2 linked regions of the Homo sapiens genome follow. The protein of the gene in region 1 purifies or fractionates together with the protein of each later gene. This does not show direct contact. Each region holds a gene or a part of one and is shown on either strand. Other genes may lie near its edges.

What was found. The genes of interacting proteins can lie anywhere in the genome.
Region 2: the proteins of ADAMTSL1 (region 1) and B3GLCT purify together in Homo sapiens (affinity purification with mass spectrometry; 2 studies listed by BioGRID and IntAct, with this or other methods). This does not show direct contact.

Annotation. Positions count from the first base shown.
Region 1 is NC_000009.12:18,907,653-18,911,152, reverse strand, and holds the end of ADAMTSL1 (ADAMTS-like protein 1 isoform 4 precursor), read right to left. Parts: intron 2,712-3,500; coding exon 2,605-2,711; 3' UTR 203-2,604; downstream 1-202.
Region 2 is NC_000013.11:31,283,475-31,286,974, reverse strand, and holds part of B3GLCT (beta-1,3-glucosyltransferase precursor), read right to left. Parts: intron 2,328-3,500; coding exon 2,214-2,327; intron 256-2,213; coding exon 156-255; intron 1-155. UniProt on the Homo sapiens protein: O-glucosyltransferase that transfers glucose toward fucose with a beta-1,3 linkage. Specifically glucosylates O-linked fucosylglycan on TSP type-1 domains of proteins, thereby contributing to elongation of O-fucosylglycan.

The DNA of each region.
Region 1 (3,500 bases):
TCTTTGGGTTTATTTACAGAGCTAGCACTTCTAGGCATGGGCCCCCAGCTTCCTGTGTAAAGATGAAAACTGCAATCCTTCCACTTCAGCCAGACGCAAATAACTGGCTGGGAACCACCCAACTGACAGGGACTTCTCTTGCTCCCTGCATAAACCACCAGGGGAAGGAAGGCTGAGTTTAACAGAGACTCAGACGACAAGATTTAAATAAATAAGCTGTATTATCTGTACAAAAAATACAAATACAGTTTTGTGTTTTAGAGGAGAAAGTGCCTCCTTCCACATTAGCCAGCAGCCTTCATTGTCTTGTGGTGCTGCTGAGTTGCAATTCACAGAACAAACATTAAATGTACATTCATTTCATGCAACGAGCATTCTGCTTCCCACCCAAACCTAGGTTCTGCCAGCTCACTGAGACCCACTGCCAACTGCTCCAACCCAACATGGAGCTGGAGGATGCTTGCTCTTTAGGAAATGTAAATAGTGACCACTGATTTTCAATCACTATCGAACTAGAAATAATTAACCACATTAGTAGTAGTATGGAATTTGTCTGTCTTTATCATTCCATGCATAACTATTATGCCACAAATGAATTCCCTCTTACTGCCTCAGCATCCCATGTTAGTTTTTACAACACATCCTGTACAGTGAATGGATCCAGAGTTAAACACCAGGTTCTATTAAAAATAGGAAAAATATAATAATCACTACTGAGTTTACAGGAACACAACTGCAGGAAGTTAGTTAATAAAGTCCCCCCAATAGTTTTGTTTCTGGATGACAATGTACAATTATTAATATTGCACTTTTTTAATAAGAAATCCTAATAAATATTCACAAAAGATATACAGACATAGAAAACATTCTTTTTTATTTTAAACAGACTTTACACTGATTTTTTAGTAACATGATTTCTTAGAGCCTGTTTTTGTGGTGAAGAAGAAGGAGACCCAACTTAAACCTGTCCACAGCTCACTAGGTGGGGACACAGATTAATATTGTCTTCCTCTCAAATTTTACTTCCAGGCTGGCTGGAAATGCAGCCCTGATGTCAATGGTAGCCCGGGGTGAGTGGCATTTCATGAGGGGAGGCTTATCTGTGGGTAAGGGACTCTGGCCACCCTTGCTCCTAAACTCAGGCCACGCGAGGGAAGGAGGCAAAAATTACTTGGCCAAAGCTGCTCGGCTTAATGAGGATTTTGCCGAAGAGTCCCAGAGTTTTCATTTTGCTGCATGACTTTGACTTTGCTCCAGCCGCCTCACCACAGCTGATGAGTGTGGCTGCAGTGTGTGAGCTGCTTTGCCAGGGTGCTGCCTCCACCACCCCGCCTTGCTAGATAAATACTACATGCCGGAGGACCTGCAGACCCTGGGGTGGAGGCTGGGAGAGGGAGGGTGTACTGTGGACACGCATAAACCCATTGTCCCACCCCGGTCCCTGGGCCAGCTCTGGAATGAAGAGGTTGCTACAACCTGACAGCCTGACAGATACTCTCTGGCACAGTGACTAGTTAATGGGTTGATGTTGATAAGTTAACCATAGTCCCTGGCCCTTCGGTGGAGCAGCAAAGGTCCTAGAAGGCAAAAAACCTGGGCCATTCATGCTCAAAATGGCCCTGGCCCACAGCAGCAGTTAGTTAGTGCGGGGCTAGGGGACTTCGGATTTAGATAAAGAGGTGCCAGGGTGGCCTTACTGCATGGCGAGACCCACCTCTCACTGGCTTTGCTGCAGCTGCACAGGCAGGACGTTGACTCTGATAGCTTGGGAAGTGGGGACTCCCACGCAGCGCAGTGCTCTGTTGTGGGCAGCAGGGCTCTGAGCATGCGCACATGCATGGGATCAGAGCTGGTCCATGAGCCTCATGCAGCCTGGAAGCCCCTGCTCACCCTGCCCCACTGGGGAACACCACAGGCTCCTTTTTGCTTCTGTCCCTTCCCTCCCCTCCCTTCCTCATTTTCTGCAATGTTGTGTGCCTTAGAGCCTGCTTTGTTTGCTTTTTTACCTCTCCCTACTGGTGATCTGAGTTCTTCTCTCTCTGCACTCACCCACTAGAAGAACTGAGTGAGTTCTGGGCTAGTTTCTGCCTCAGCATGGTGTCCCCTCCCCATTTGTCCTAACTGTGACTAAAGGGACATAGATGGGGAAGAGGAGACAAAGGAGCAAAACACTCCTGTGTTTGTGATAGTGCGCTTCTAGGAAAGACACAGGAATTTGTCCAATGTTTGCACCAATAGGCTACAAACCTTCTGGCTCCCTGCTGTCCGCAGGGGCTGTGCCTGCCTCTTTCTAGGTCTTTGAGACCCAGGTTTGGGAGGGAGGAAGCTCTTCAAGGGAGCCCCCACTGTCTGCCTGGCCTGCTCTGCAACCTCCTTTAGACATCTGTCCTTTCCTTTCCCAACATCCTGTCCTCCAGCTAACTGAAAGAGAAAACACGCGGACGTCCTTATGCTTGAAGGTGGAGGTGGAGGAGGTTGGAAGGGTGTGTGTGGAGTGGGGAGGGGGAAATAAATAAATAAAATGAAGAAAGCTTAGGTTCTGTCCGAGGTGGTTGCGTGAGTCCTTCGTGTGGCCAGGGTAGAGTTTTTCCCCACACCCTATCTTCACGCTTTGCCACAAGTTCCACAGCAGCGAGATTTAAACTGGCTGAGTTGGCAGAGTTTCAGCTGTTTCACCTTCTCGCAGTACCTGGTGGTGTCTCTGCACTCCACTGGGAAAGGAGGACGGGGTCGGGAGAGGAGACAGAAAAGAGATGTGAAACAGAGACTAATGAACGCAGCCTGTGTGAGGTGCAGCCGGGGGTTTCAGCCACTGGGGTACATCCTGGGGTCTGCCTTGGCCACCGCTCTCCAGCCTAACTTTGACAGAGCTCAGCCACTTGCTCCCCAAGGCTGCCAACAGCAGGGGTGGCACCAGCCTGCAGCTGTCTGGCTGAATGATGGGGCCCCTCCCTGGGCTGTCTGCTTGTTTTCTGCAGCTCCCTCTACTTCCTGAAGGTGCCTGTTTTCTCTATCTTCTTGGGATTACCTCATCTCCTAGGTGATCACCTCTCCCCCTAGGCAAACCTGCCTTTTCCCGTGGGTTTTGGTATTTTAAGTAAATGACTCTCCTCCTCAAGATGGTTCCCAGCACTGCATCCTCCCCGACTTTGCAGGAGTGTGAAGTGAGACTTGCGTCGGGTGCCCCCATCCCCAGGCACTTGGGCCTACTTTCTCTGTTAAGCTTTATTTTCATGTGCCCTCCAGTCTCTCTTCCTTCTACCCATCATGCCTTAAACACAGCACCAGGACGTTCTAGTTCAGTGTTGGCACAGACTAGATGGTCTTAAATATTGTGCTGACTTGGTTTGGTAAGTTTTAACTATGTGCGTTGAATATTGGCGCTCTCTGAGCATGGTGAGCCACTGACACAAACATGGGTTAACACTACCCGAGTACAAAGATCATCCATCCCCCAGCGTGTAAAAAGAAGTGGGCTATTTGCCTACATGGCGTCTGCC
Region 2 (3,500 bases), on another chromosome or scaffold:
TTTTATATATTTTGTTCCTTAAGAGGATTGGTTCAGATAGAAGGGTAAACCCCGTCCCCGTTACTTCATCTTGGCCAGAAAAAGTACCCATCTAGTTTTTTGAATATGAATATATGTAGAATTTAAAGCCATTTAGGATGAGAATGACTCCTTACCTTATTAATGTATCATCATCCACAATGACTAACCATGCTGTTTTGTCCTGGCTACGATTCAGAAATCTTTCCAAAATGGCAAATGTCTTTCCACAATGACCTAGAAAAGGCAAGAAAAAAACTTACAATGTATTATTTCTTATAAAATATATAGAATTTGTTCATTTCTTTTTAGTTTTGAAGTGTTCTAAGAGCTTACATGCCAAAATGCAGCTTAAAAGTTCAAAATTTTTAAAAATAGCCTTCTCTAATTTTCACAGACACATTGAACCAGTGGGAACTTTAGAGATAATGAAATTCAAGCCATTCATTTCTCACACAAGGAAATGGAGACCTAGAGAGATGAGTGGAATTACACAGTCACACAGATAATCTGAGGCAGAGATAGAATTAGTAACTTCAGTCCAGGCAAGAAAGTTTTAAGACTCACAGCAATGAGCAATGGCATCCTTTCTTAGATAAACTTATTCTGAAGGAGCTGTTAGAACCCCAGGCACCACTGCCACAGGGAAGCAGCAGTGCAAAGGCGGAAGCTTATACCTTCATTTACTTATTTTGTAAATATTTACTACCACTAAGTTTCTAACATGCCAGATACTGTGGCAGGTACTAAGCACTAAAGATATAGTGCTGAGTAAGACAGAGTAACAGTCCTTCAGATACCAATAGATAAATTACAATGCTTTAATGGTAAATGCTGGACAAAAATAAAACACTTGGGAAGAGTAGTCAAATTGATAAACAGGAATATGCCCCTCATTTTAATTATTTGGTGACACAGTGGAGCACAAATATTAACTTATATTAATGACTATTAAACCACTCAATTTGACCTTTATTTTCTTTACTCTTGATCTCTGTGTATTTTTAACCATTACAATACGTGTTTCAAAGCCACCTCAAATCCCTTTTAGAACAAATATAAATATAGACAATAAGACCAGACTAGTAATGAAGACATCAAATAAGGTATAAGTAAATACATGATTATTAAACCCAATCTAAAATCGTTTTTCCAAATCAAACAGCAACAGACAGACTCAGTAATACACTTAACCTTGTTAGAAGAATTGGTAACTACAGAGATGGCATATCTGATTCTGCATTGTACTATATTAATGAAAGAATTATGAGTGACACTAACATAAAATAAGATAAATTACTGTATAGAACATAATCAGTTTGCTACTTTTTTTTTTTTTTTTTTTTTTTTTTACTCATAAAAGGGCATGGGGAACAAAAAAACTAAAGAACAAAGGGTGGCAGGAACACTGGATAAAACTTAAGATGAATAAAGAATATCTGAAGATGAGGTGGCCAAATTTTCACTTCCATTTTTTGACACAATTTTTTAAAATTTTTATAGATTTAAGAGGTACAAGTGCAGTTTTGTAACATCGACATATTGTACAGTGGTGAAGTCTGGGCTTTTGGTGAAGCCATCACCCGAAGAGTGTCTATCGTACTCAGTGGGTAATTTCTCATCCCTCGCCCCTCTTCTACTCTCCCACCTTTTGGAGTCTCCAATGTCTACCATTCCACTCTGTATGTCCTAAAAAGTGTTTTTAATTAGAAAGCCTGCAATTTGAAGAGAAAAGCAGGTTTATTTCCAACAATTTACTAATTAAAATCTTAACATATAGAATACAGTTTATTCTACATATAACTAGTGTAGAATGTGATTAGGTGGTACTCACGGGTAATATAATATGTGAACTAGACTATAAGACTGACAAGGAGAGAAGCTTTATGTGGGAATATAATAAACACCCCATCATGGTCGCAAAGAATTATGAAGGTATGAAAAATCTATTGTTAAATTCTGCTGTAACTATCATGTGCTCAATTATAGGATATAAGCTACTAAAAACTTGCAACACTTCGTACTATAAAGCCCTTAGTTTGAAAGAACCAATCAGTATCTGAGAGAAGGGAAAAAACTAATATGAGGCAAAAATTATAGCACTTATAAAACATTTCATTTTTATCCTAACCTAATTTACTGTATTTACAGAATGGCAATGTTTAATAAGGAGAGTAGTAAGAATTATGACTCACCTCTATCTGTATTAGGAATTCCCAAATCCACAGTAGGAATGGAATTTTCAGTATAGTCACTATAGTATTCAATGAGACTTGCCTGGCTCTCCCAAGTCTGCTTAACAATAGGTACTGAAAAAATTACAGAGGTGACAATCACTGGCACAGTTACACAAGGAAGCTTAAAAATTCAAAATGGCAGTATAATCATCTACAAAGGAAGAGAAACATTACTGGTTGTTCTTCAGGTGTTCCAAGAGTTGCTTGCTTCCAACCCTGAGAAATGCCAACGTTGTTGACTAAAACCCTCTTCTTGAAGCATTTTCAACATTCTCTAGAGTAAAGCATTTCTCATTCCTGGTGATGAATGCACTTACTTCCATATAATGATAAATTTTCTGGTTTGATTATGCTATTGTGTTTACATTAATGTTAACTAATTTTTCTTTTACCACGGAGCACGGTAAGAGAAAATCCATCCCTCTTACCGTGGAGCATGAGAAGACCTTTGCAAACTATGCATGTCCCCACCCAAAGATTCTAACAGAACTACCCAACCCTACAAAGGGCATGACCTTGCCAAATGAGAATCACTGCATATGATGACTGATATTACGATGTTGTACTTTTGAAAAATGTGGAAGTACTAACATTCAAAACTACTGCAGGCTTTAAAACTCTATCATTAGCAGCTAAATTGTTTTAACACAATAAACACAACAGAAAGCTGTCCTGGTTTTCTGTATTTTGGCTTTGGAGGCTCAAAGATAGCTCTGTCTGCATACCTGACATATAGACTTACCACTACTTGATATTAATTCACCTGACCAAGTAATTCTTTTCTTCTATACTTAAAAAACAAATTACTGCCTATGCATCTCTGAATTTTAAAAAGTGGTTTCTTGTTTTTTCAATAGAAAAAACATTTAGATTTTATATCCTGTCAAAACTCTGATGAACCAAATCTTCACTTAACTTTTGAGAAACTTTATCAGATCATGTATCTTTCCCCTGTTCCCAACTCTAATAGAAATATATACAAAAACTGATGTTCCAATGTAAAATTTAAGTGTTTAGCTAATAAGTAAGCAAATTCTGAGTCCAGCTCAGACAGCCCTTATATAGAAAATACAGAAGTGCATCATTTTATAATCTCTTTCACTGGCTTTTTTTTTAAAAAAACTGAGTTCTGCACATCTGCTAAAATTACCAAATTACCAGTTAAATATTAATTTCATATATTAAAATATAATTTTTCTGCAACCATAAAAAAGCAGATAGTTCTAAAGGTTTCTACATGTCAAA